2 separate regions of the Homo sapiens genome follow, and region 2 is linked to region 1. The links come from fine-mapping of genetic effects on gene expression. A gene starts in region 1. The other region holds a variant in brackets. All regions are shown on one strand. Distances are between the middles of the regions.

Region 1 (5,385 bases):
AATTTTCTACATTAGCATGATTAGAAAATCTTAATGATTAGAAAATTAGAGGAACATAGATGCATATATGGTTATTTTCACCTTAATATTGTGGAAAAAAGATCTGGCAACTACTTTGATGGTTTACCAACTGATTTCTGCTTGTTTCTCAACTGCCTTGCAAGCCAAGTAAGACAGCAAAGAATTACTTCTCACAGAAATTAAACTTCAGTAGATATCTGCGAGTAGTAGGTAAAATGATAGCAGTTGGAGTAAACTTCAATAGTTTTCAACTGTTGTGCCTGTTAGGTTCAGTTAAAAAAAATTTCCAGGCCTAGCGCACTGGCTCACACCTGGAATCATAGCACTTTGGGAGGCTGAGGCGGGCAGATCACTTCAGGTCAGGAGTTCAAAACCGGCCAGGCCAATTGTACTAAAAATACAAAAAAAATTAGCCGGGCATGGAGGCAGACACCTGTAATCCCAGCTACTCTGGAAGCTGAGGCAGGAGAATCGCTTGAACCTGCGAGGCGGAGGTTGCAGTGGGCTGAGATCGTGCCATTGCACTCCAGCCTGGGTGACAGAGTGAGACTCCATCTCAAAAAAAAAAAAATGTCCAGGAGAGGAGTTTGCATTAAATCATTCAGTAACACCGATTACACACCTTTGTAGTAGGCATTGGGAAAGTGGGGAAAAAAAAGAGGTTGGTAGGTTGGGATGGGGGCATGAGTTAGGAGGTAAGATGATGGTGTAGCAGGATGAGCCGCAGACAAAACCTCTCAGACACCGAGTTGTAGAAGGAAGGGCTTTATTCAGCTGGGAGCATTGGCAAGCCACTGCCTTAAAATCCGAGCTCCCTGAGTGCACAATTTCTGTCCCTTTTAAGGGTTCACAACACTAAAGATTTCACATGAAAGTGTCGTGATTGATTTGAGCAAGCAAGGGGTACGTGACAGGGGCTGCATGCACCGGTGGTCAGAGACAAACAGAACAGGGCAGGGAGTTTCACAATGTTCTATACAATGTCTGGAATCTATGAATAACATCGGTTTCTAGGTTATGAGTTGATTTTTATTTTATTTATTTATTTATTTATTTATTTATTTATTTATTTATTTTGAGACGGAGTCTCGCTCTGTCACCCAGGCTGGAGTGCAGTGGCGCCATCTCGGCTCACTGCAAGCTCCGCCTCCCAGGTTCACGCCATTCTCCTGCCTCAACGTCCCAAGTAGCTGGGACTACAGGCACCCGCCACCACACCCGGCTAATTTTTTTTAATATATATTTAGTAGAGACGGGGTTTCACCGTGTTAGCCAGGGTGGTCTCGATCTCCTGACTTCGTGATCCACCCGCCTCGGCCTCCCAAAGCGCTGGGATTACAGGCGTGAGCCACTGCGCCCAGCCTGAGTTGATTTTTAACTACTGGGTTTAGGCCAGGCAGAGCCAGGCCTGGTTTTGGGCCTGGCGCCGGACTGCCTGTCTTTGATTTCACTTCTTTTTTCTCTCTTAAAACAGGTACTGAGTATAAAACAATATAAAACAATATGAGAGGGTCTCTCTCTTCCCTCAATGGCAAGTATGCTTTTGAGTAATGAACTTCTGTACCATACCAATTACCCAGGGGAGTGGTAGATCTTAAAGACAAAGATTAATTGATTGATTTTGTTTTCTTCTCAAATTCCTTTTACCAAAAGACAGAGATAATAAAACAATATTTATATTTGAGAGGTGGTGATGGTTGTGGTCAAAACGACCAGCTGAAAGTCATAATGTCCAAGCAAGATGAGGGAAAGCTCTGGGGGCAGGCAGTAATAACCATAACAGCAAACACATACTATGAACCAGGCACTACTTATCAACAGTTTATCAACCCATTAAAAGCTTATTGCAGCCGGGCGTGGTGGCTCATGCCTGTAATCCCAGCACTTTGGGAGGCTTAGGTGGGCAGTCACCTGAGGTCAGGAGTTCGAGACCAGCTTGGCCAACATGGTGAATTAGTGAGGCATGGTGATGTGCCCCTGTAATCTCAGCTACGCGGGAGGCTGAGGCGGGAGAATCACTTGAACCCAGGAAGCGGAGTTTGGTTGCAATGAGCCGAGATCGCGCCATTGTGCTCCAGCTTGGGCGACAGAGTGACACTGTCTCAAAAAAAACAAAAAACAGTCTGGGAGAGGTGGCTAACGCCTGTCATCCCAGCACTTTGGGAGGCCGATGTGGGCGGATCATCTGAAATAGGGAATTCGAGACCAGCCTGACCAACATGGAAAAACCCTGTCTCTACAAGAAACACAAAATTAGCCAGGAGTGGTGGCACATGCCTGTAATCCCAGCTACTCGGGAGGCTGAGGCAGGAGAATCGCTTGAACCCGGGAGGCAGAGGTTGCGGTGAGCTGAGATCGTGCCATTGCACTCCGGCCTGGGCAACAAGAGCGAAACTCCATCTCAAAAACAAATAGAAACAAAAACACAACAAAAACCTTATTACAATCCTGTGAACTAGCTACTGTCATTACTATAATGTAGATGAACAAACTGGGACATGGACAGTTGACAAAACATTCCCAACCACACACTAGGAATGAGCTGGGATAGGAAACCAGGCACTCTGGCTCTATTACTCCTAATGCCATACACACGAGCTGACTTAGGAGAAAACAGAAAGTACTGTTCGCACAATACTAACTGGTTCTACCGCCACTGTTCGCTTGCATTTGTTTTTTCCTTCTTGTTAGGAACACGTATCTTTGAAGGAGGTATCATTTCTCCCACAATTCTCCATTTAACGTTTCCTACAGTGTTAAGCACCACCGAGGCCTCTCATAGCCCCAGAGAAGAAGTAATTTGCTTCCTAGAAATCCTCACTGTATCCAGATTCCCTCCCAGAGGAGCCATCAGTTCTCATGGGTGGCACTTTTTCTCCAGCTGATTACACTTTTTTTCTGTACCAGTTAATTTTTCCAACTTCTAATTGAATAAAGGCAGTTTTCTTAAAAAAAAAAAAAAGAGAAAGAAAAACGGAAAGGAAGGAAGAGGAAAGGAAGGAAGAAATGAAGAAAGGAAGGAAGGAAAGAAAGGAGAGGGACAGAAAGAAAAAAAGGAAAGAGAGAAAGAAAGGAAAGGAAAGTAAGAAATGGAAGGGACCTGCAGAAACGATTCACCACGCGCGGCTGACCCTGGGAGGAGCCACAGGTTGAACCAGCGCCTCCCAGGCTGGACGCCCGCCGCGGACACCGCAGACAGTCCCACCCCCAGCGGCGACAGCAACTCTCTGAATTCCGGAAAGAACCTTTTCCAGCGGGACCGGAAGCCCGGCGGGGACCGTAGCGGGGACGGACTGACCTACCGACCATTCTTCCGGGTCCAGAAGGTGATCTCCGCCCGTGCTCAGAATCCAGGGGCCCGGGGCTGTAGGTAGGAGTTAAGTGGGTAGGATCCCTTAACCAGGGTTGTCCGGTGCAGGTGGTGTGTGTTGTTTCGCCTAACGTGTCAGTGGCACAAATCACGCGAACTTCATAAACATTGTGCGTTCGGAAGCCTTTCCAAGATGCATTTAATCCCTGCGTGAGCCCACGTTAGGCATTCACGAAGGCATGTGCACTGTTCTCTCGGAAGCGGCTGGCCGGCTTCCCCTCCTCGCGCGCGGCTGTGGGTGCAGGTCCTCACTTCCCAGCCTCCCATGGGCCCAAGGCCTTCTGGGCTCCAATTTGAGGCGAGCCACCCCAGATCCGTAATTTTTCTGCAGTGATTTATTTTTACCTTTCTGGTAAGTTCCAAAGCTTCCAGCTCACATTCAGACGTTTTCCCTAACGCAACTACGTATTTGCAACATACTTTTTTCAGATTCCTTGACAAGGATATCCTAGCGGCGAAACAACACCGTACTGGGAGTCAGAACGTCTGGGTTCTAGTCTTGACTGCCATTAACTAGCGGTATGACATTGGAGAAGCTTTTTTGACCCTTCTGGATTTCCGTTTCCTTTTCTGTAAAATGAGGAGCTTGGAGTAAGTGACAAGTTTCCTTCCAGTTTTGACATTTGGGTTATTGCCTCCAATGTGTCTTTCCAGTTCCTGCCTCAATTACATATCTGTGCTTTGGTTAATATCTCGTAGGGTCCTTCCTCCCACTCCATTAATCTGTGCTCTTCTCAAATCTGGTTTCATACTGATTTAAAAATTATTTTCTCAAGGAATCCTGTGTTACCTGAGCACTCTACTTCTTGGTCCAGGGGCACAAACGTAAATAAGATATTTTCCATGTGCCATTCTTAGAAGTATTTAATGTGTGTAAATACTATTGAATGAATTTCCAAATCTTCTTTTTTTTTTCTTTAGACAGAGTCTCACTGTCGCCCAGGCTGGAGTGCAGTGGCCTGATCTCGGCTCACTGCAGTCTCTGCCTCCTGGGTTCAAGCGATTCTCCTGCCTCAGCCTCCCAAGTCGCTGGGATTACAGGCGCCCGCCACCGTACCCGGCTAATTTTTGTACTTTTAGTAGAGAGGGGGTTTCACCATGTTGGCCAGGCTGGTCTCGAACTCCTGACCTCAGGTGATCCGCCCGCCTCGACCTCCCAAAGTGCTAGGATTACAGGCATGAGCCATCACGCCCAGCCTGAATTTCTAAATCTTAATGTGTTTATTTCGTTGGCATTAAGTTAGATTTTTCCTTGATCTTTACTCGAATAAGCCTTTTAAGGTAAAATGCTTGCTCGATTACACACACATACACAACCTCATAATTGTCCGAAGGTAAACAAGTTAATGACTTGTGAATATTTTTAACTTATAAGCAATGAATCCTCAAAGCTTATAAGCGAGTATCAAGACATGTGATATGGTTTTAAAATAGCTGATGATAAAGTATATACATCATCTCATTTTCTCCTCTTAGTCTTGTAATAGGAAGGACAGATATTCAAACACTTATTTATTTATTTATTTTTAACAGAGATCCGGAAAATGAGGCCCATAGGAAACAAGTGACTTGCTGAGTCCAGATAACACTGACTGTCAGAGTGAGTGTCCACCTAAGGTTCCTTTGTTGCCTAATAAGATACTTTCTTTGCTATACTGTACTTGTTTCTGTTATCATTTCTTTTCTTTCTTTTAAAAAATATTCAGTATAGGCCAGGCGCGGTGGCTCACGCCTGTAATCCCAGCACTTTGGGAGGCCAAGGCGGATAGATCACCTGAGGTCAGGAGTTCAAGACCAGCCTGGCCAACACGGTGAAACCCCGTCTCTACTAAAAATACAAAATAATTAGCCGGGTGTGCTGGCAGGCACCTGTAATCCCAGCGACTTGGGAGGCTGAGGCAGGAGAATCCCCTGAACCCAGCAGGTGGAGGTTGTAGTGAGCCAAGATCACGCCATTGCACTCCAGCCTGAGCGATGAGCAAAACTCCATCTCA
Region 2 (5,385 bases), 130 kb before region 1:
GAATTATTTTCATAATAATACTAAGATGTCCTTTGCCTTTTTATGCGTGTGTTGCTAAAGCACTGATGATGCAAAAGCAAAGGTAAGTAAAACTGCTGACATTTTAGTATGAATCAAGGAATTGTACCAAATTGTGTGGGCAATCATTGTATTCTTCTCGTTACACACTTGTAAGGTATAATAAATAAACCCAGTTTCACTTAAAAATGTCCTTGATGAAGCAATAAAAGTTATTTTGTTGGGTCTTGACCCTTGAATCTTTTTAACATTCTGTGGGCAAAACGGGAACCATACATAATGTTCTTGCATAACAAAGTGCGATGATTATCTCAAGAAAAAGTACTCATGGTTTTTGAGTTCCAAGGTTGAAGTAGTCTCTGTTTTTTGGAACACCATTTTTACTTGAAAGAATGACAGACAAACTGGTTGTTAATACTTGAGTACTGGGCAGACAGTTCCTCAGAAATGAATAAAGTGAGCCTGTCACTTCAGGGAAAACAACTGATTGTATTTGTTGTCAATGATGAAATTTGATTTATAGAAAACATGGGCTTGACAGCTACTCAATATTTAAAGACTTTTCTGATGAGATTGGAGGTGATATTAATGAATGTGGTTTTTTTTTTTTAGACGGAGTCTTGCTCAGTTGCCCAGGCTGGAGTGCAGTGGCGTGATCTCGGCTCACTGCAAGCTCTGCCTCCTGGGTTCACGCCATTCTCCTGCCTCAGCCTCCCTAGTAACTGGGACTACAGGTGCCCACCACCACGCCTGGCTAATTTTTTGTATTTTTAGTAGAGATGGGGTTTCACCATATTAGCCAGGATGGTCTCGATCTCTTGACCTTGTGATCCGCCTGCCTTGGCCTCCCAAAGTGCTGGGATTACAGGCATGAGCCACCACGCCTGGCCGGTTTTTTTTTTTTTTTAAATAGTAATAAAATGTGCCGACATTTGGAAGATCTGTATAATTCAAAGAACCAATAATTTCTAAATGACCAATGCACGATGTTAAGAAGTTATGCATACATAGTTAAAAGATCCATTGAACGTGCCAGATAGACCAATGGATTTTAATGTAAAACAGAGAAAGAAAAGTTCATTGATAGAGTTTCAGATTCCATATTGCACTTAACCTTTAAGAAATAACCCTTACTGAATTTTGGTAATATCAAAGAAGAATATCAATAATTGTATGAATATGCCAATCAAATAATTTTCCTTTTTCTAATTACATACTTGTGTGCGGTCATATTTCTTATACTTAAAGCAAAACAATGTATCACAACCACCGAATGCAGAAGCAGGTTTAAGAAAACAGCTGTATTCTATTAAGCCAAACACTGAGATTTGCAAAGAAGTGAAAGAATGTTATTTCCCACTAAAATGTTAAGTTTTGAAAAGTTATAAAAATGTTCTTTATGTTAACAAACACTGTTACATTTAGGTGAATTAATATTTTTAAAAATTCTTTATTTTAAATTTTAATATAGTAAATATAGATAGTTATAACCCACATAAACAAAAGCTCTTTGGGAGTCTGCAATAATTTTAAAGAGTAAAAAGGGGTTCTGAGACCAAAAGTTAAAAAACTGCTAACTTAATATTTGAAGGGCTAAGTTGACTTATTCTAAAAGAAATAAAGGGTGGGTTCAGCCATTTTATTAAGTTTAGATGAAACCAAAGTAAAGTATATGTATAGTACTGGATTTTAATTATTTTTGTGTCCATTTGCAGTTTTTAAATTAAAGCATTACTTCTGTTTGTTAAATCAGTGAATATCATGCCCTACTGCTAGCTTAATCTTGGGCTAACTAGAAAATGTCATAGATTTTCCAACTTTCGAAAAGGTAACTTAATGTGTCCAAAATTATGAGAACAAAAACATGAAAGGCTGTGTCTGTAATCTCTGTATGGTAATTATATGTCATGTACCTCTCCAAGAATGACTGTTCAGTCAATGTGAAGTTCAAGATAGTTAATATATGTGAAAATATTCTGTAGATAGGTAAAAGCTTATATTAATATTAGATTTATTGTTGGCTGTCATGCAAAGTAATTGAATTTGAATTTATGGGGGGGAGAAATTAAGTTGAAGGAATATATATATATATATATATATATATATAT[ATATATATATG/G]TATACACACACACATACATACACACACATATGTATATATATATATATATATTTTTTTTTTTTTTGGAGACAGAGTCTTTCTCTGTCATCCAGGCTGGAATGCAGTGGTGAGATCATAGTTCACTGAAGCTTCTGACTCCTGGCCTCAAGTGATCCTCCTGTCTTAGCCTCCTGCGTAGCTAGGACTGCAGGCACACACCACTGTCCCCAGCTAATTAAAATTTTGTTTTTTTGTAGACAAGGAGTCTTGCTGTGTTGTACAGGCTGGTCTCAAACTCCTGGCCTGAAGCAATTCTCTGGCCTCAGCCTCCCAAAGTGCTGGGATTATGGGTATGAGCCACCTCCCCTAGCCAATACATTTTTTCCCTTAAAACCACTAATTTTCTATGTACCCTCAGACCAGTGCTGCAAAATAAAAAAGCCATTAATTTTCCTGAAATACCTTACTACTTGGATACTTGGATAACCCTTAATGGTGGTGCTGTTTACCCAGTTAATTATTTTTCATAAAGCAAACATTCTGGTTTATGCACATTTAAAGTTAGATACATAAATTAGTTATTTCAGATGTATCATAGTGACATGCAAATATTACATAGTTATGTTATTTTATAAATTATCTCAAAAATTTATTAAAAGACCACACTACAACCATAGTTTTAAGTTACAGTGCCATGATCAAAAACCACCATCAGTTAAGCACCAACACAGAACAGATGGTCCAAGAGGACATACAACAGGTTTACATTCTGGAGGAGAAGAGCATAGAGCCATTAAAGCTATCAGATTTCTGTTTCTTATATATATTAGTTAATGAATAAGTAAAGATATAATCCTTGATCATACAAGGACCAAATCTCAGAGTATTAGCGTTGCAAAATTGCTAACTTTAACTTCATCTTTTTTCCTGATTTACAAATTTTTATATACAGTGGTTGATAATACTACTGTCCGTTTATTATTTTAATTGAAATTAATGCAACTTGTCATAAGTAGATCATTTATAAATGTGAAATTGCTTGAGGCCCTCTTTTACTGCCATGTTGCATTTAACTCCTGGTTGGACAGATTTGAGCCATATTGCTAGGCTATTTGTCACTAAAGCATTTTTTTAGTTTTCATCTTATAAAGAAGATGGTTGACTTGAAATTGTGTTGCCTTGGAAATAGCTGTGTGTGATTGGAAAGGTACTTGCTCACGTTTGACATGTCACATGTATATTGTTCAGTAGCTCATCTTTTATTTTAGAAAACGGCCTTTCCAAAGATACATTCTTTAGAAAAAAATGGTATAGTATGCTTTCAAAAAGAGCCTGATAAAAACTTTATTAATTGTGATTATTCTGAATTAATTTTTGTTTTGCATTTTAAGTATTAAAATGAAAGGCAGAATATTTGGAATATTTAATAGACTACATTTTCTCTTTAGAGAATTCTGTGAGTCATACTTAATAGACTACATTTCTTTTTAGAGCATTCTGGAGTCATACCATACTGTTTGTTTAAATTACTGTATTGTGATTTTTATTATATTAAAAGTAATAGAATACAGGATTCAACCTGAGGAAGCTGATAAAAACACACACACACAGGAATGAGTGTTTTTTCTGTCTTTATATAGGATGCATTCTTTTTATAGAAGAAATTTTTAATACTGTTTTCTTTTCTTATGGTTTATGCTTAGTCTCACAAATGTCTTATGACTCTGAATTCCTGACATCGAATTCTATGCAGAGATAGCTTTATCAAATGTGCTTCAGCTAAGTAACAATCCAACACAATTATTAATATTTTTCCCTCAGGTAAATGAAATAGGTTTCATGAAACAATAAAAAGTCCTTAAAAAATGTTTTACGTGCTTAAAAAATTAATTAGTACCAAAAGGTTCACAGTGACAAACAAAAATTCTCTGCTGTATTTCTCCTCATATCTCAGTTCAGTTCTCTGGAGTGCCACTTTTTTTTTTTTTTTTTTGAGACAGAGTCTCATTCTGTCGCCCAGGCTGGAGTACAGTGGCGCAATCTCGGCTCACTGCAACCTCCGCCTCCCAGCTCAAGCAATTCTCTGCCTCAGCCTCCTGAATAACTGGGATTACAGGCACCCACCACCACGCCCAGCTAATTTTTTTTTTAATTTTTAGTAGAGACGGGGTTTCACCATCTTGGCCAGGCTGGTCTTGAACTCCTGACCTCATGATCCACCCGCCTTGACCTCCCAGGCATGAGCCTCTGTGCCTGGCCCAGAGTGACAGCTTTTTAAACTTTTTTAAAAGCAATTTCTTCTGTTATTTAGCCCATATATAGGGATAATGTGTCTATTCTGGTATTTCTTGATTTATTCCTTTTAGACATTGTCTATGACTTCCTGATAGTGGTAGATAAGATTTTATCTTTTTTATGCTCCTGTATTTCTTCTTACCCTATCTTTCTAATATAGTTAACACAGGTTTAGTTAAATCAGTCATCAGTATTTACATTATTATAACTATATAATATTTACTGCAAAGCCAGGTATTATTTTTCCGAAGCTACTAATTCTCTTGATTTGCATAATTTTCTATAAATTACCCTTAAAGAGTCAACCATTTTTCATGGAGGTGGAGCTTAGGACTTTTCTTTCTTTCTTTTTTTTTTTGTTAGGCAGGGTCTTGCTCTGTCACCCAGGTGGGAGTGCGATGGTATAATCACAGTCCACTGCAGCCTCAAACTCCTGGGCTCAAGCAATCTTCCTGCCTCATTTTTAAATTTTTTTGTGGAGATGAGGTTTCACTGTGTTGCCCAGGGTAGTCTTGAACTCCTGGGCTTACACAATCCTCTTGCTTTGGCCTTCCAAAGTGCTGGGATTACAGGCGTAAGCCATCGTTGCCAGCCCAGGAGCTTAGGACTTTTCTGGTAGTTTCACCTGAGGGCAGTCCCTCTCACCTAAAGAGATCACATCCTTAGGGTGAAAAGGCCTGTTTTCCGTGATCCTAACATGTGTCAGTATGGCCCTTACTCAAACTGGGCATGCATCAAATGGGAAACTCAAGCCTTATAATGGGAAGTTTATTGCTTTCTAGATCCATGCCGAGAGTGCTTAATGGTTATCCTGGGCTCTAAGTACAGATAGTTTATAGTAATAGATAATGATATAATATCTGATGATTATAAAGAAATAGGAACTTTTCAGTTCTGTTTTCATACTAAAATAACTCTTGAGTAGGTACAATGTAGAACAGAAGTTACAGATAGAGGTTTGGGGTGCTTAGGTA

Which allele goes with the higher level. Positions count from the first base shown, and alleles are read on the strand shown. Sizes are in standard deviations (SD) of each study's normalised expression.
With allele ATATATATATG in place of G in region 2, the expression in neutrophils of the gene that starts at base 3,329 in region 1 is higher (large effect, 2.4 SD a copy in BLUEPRINT).

Evidence for each region. PIP is the estimated chance that this variant, and not a neighbour inherited with it, causes the effect. A credible set is the group of variants that fine-mapping cannot tell apart.
Region 2: its variant is the best candidate, but not a certain one, in a credible set for the expression of MTIF2 in neutrophils (BLUEPRINT, PIP 0.75).

The regions. Positions count from the first base shown.
Region 1 is chr2:55,267,175-55,272,559 of GRCh38, reverse strand. MTIF2 (mitochondrial translational initiation factor 2) reads left to right here and starts at 3,329. Exons shown (of 16, transcript NM_002453.3): 1 at 3,329-3,391; 2 at 3,821-3,982; 3 at 4,925-4,991. RefSeq lists enhancers at 2,468-3,291, 3,237-3,386.
Region 2 is chr2:55,398,251-55,403,635 of GRCh38, reverse strand. The region is part of intron 2 of CCDC88A (coiled-coil domain containing 88A); the gene reads left to right. Among named protein-coding and RNA genes, the nearest start is that of CCDC88A, 19 kb to the left of the region's middle. The variant ATATATATATG/G (reference allele first, on the strand shown) is at 2,127.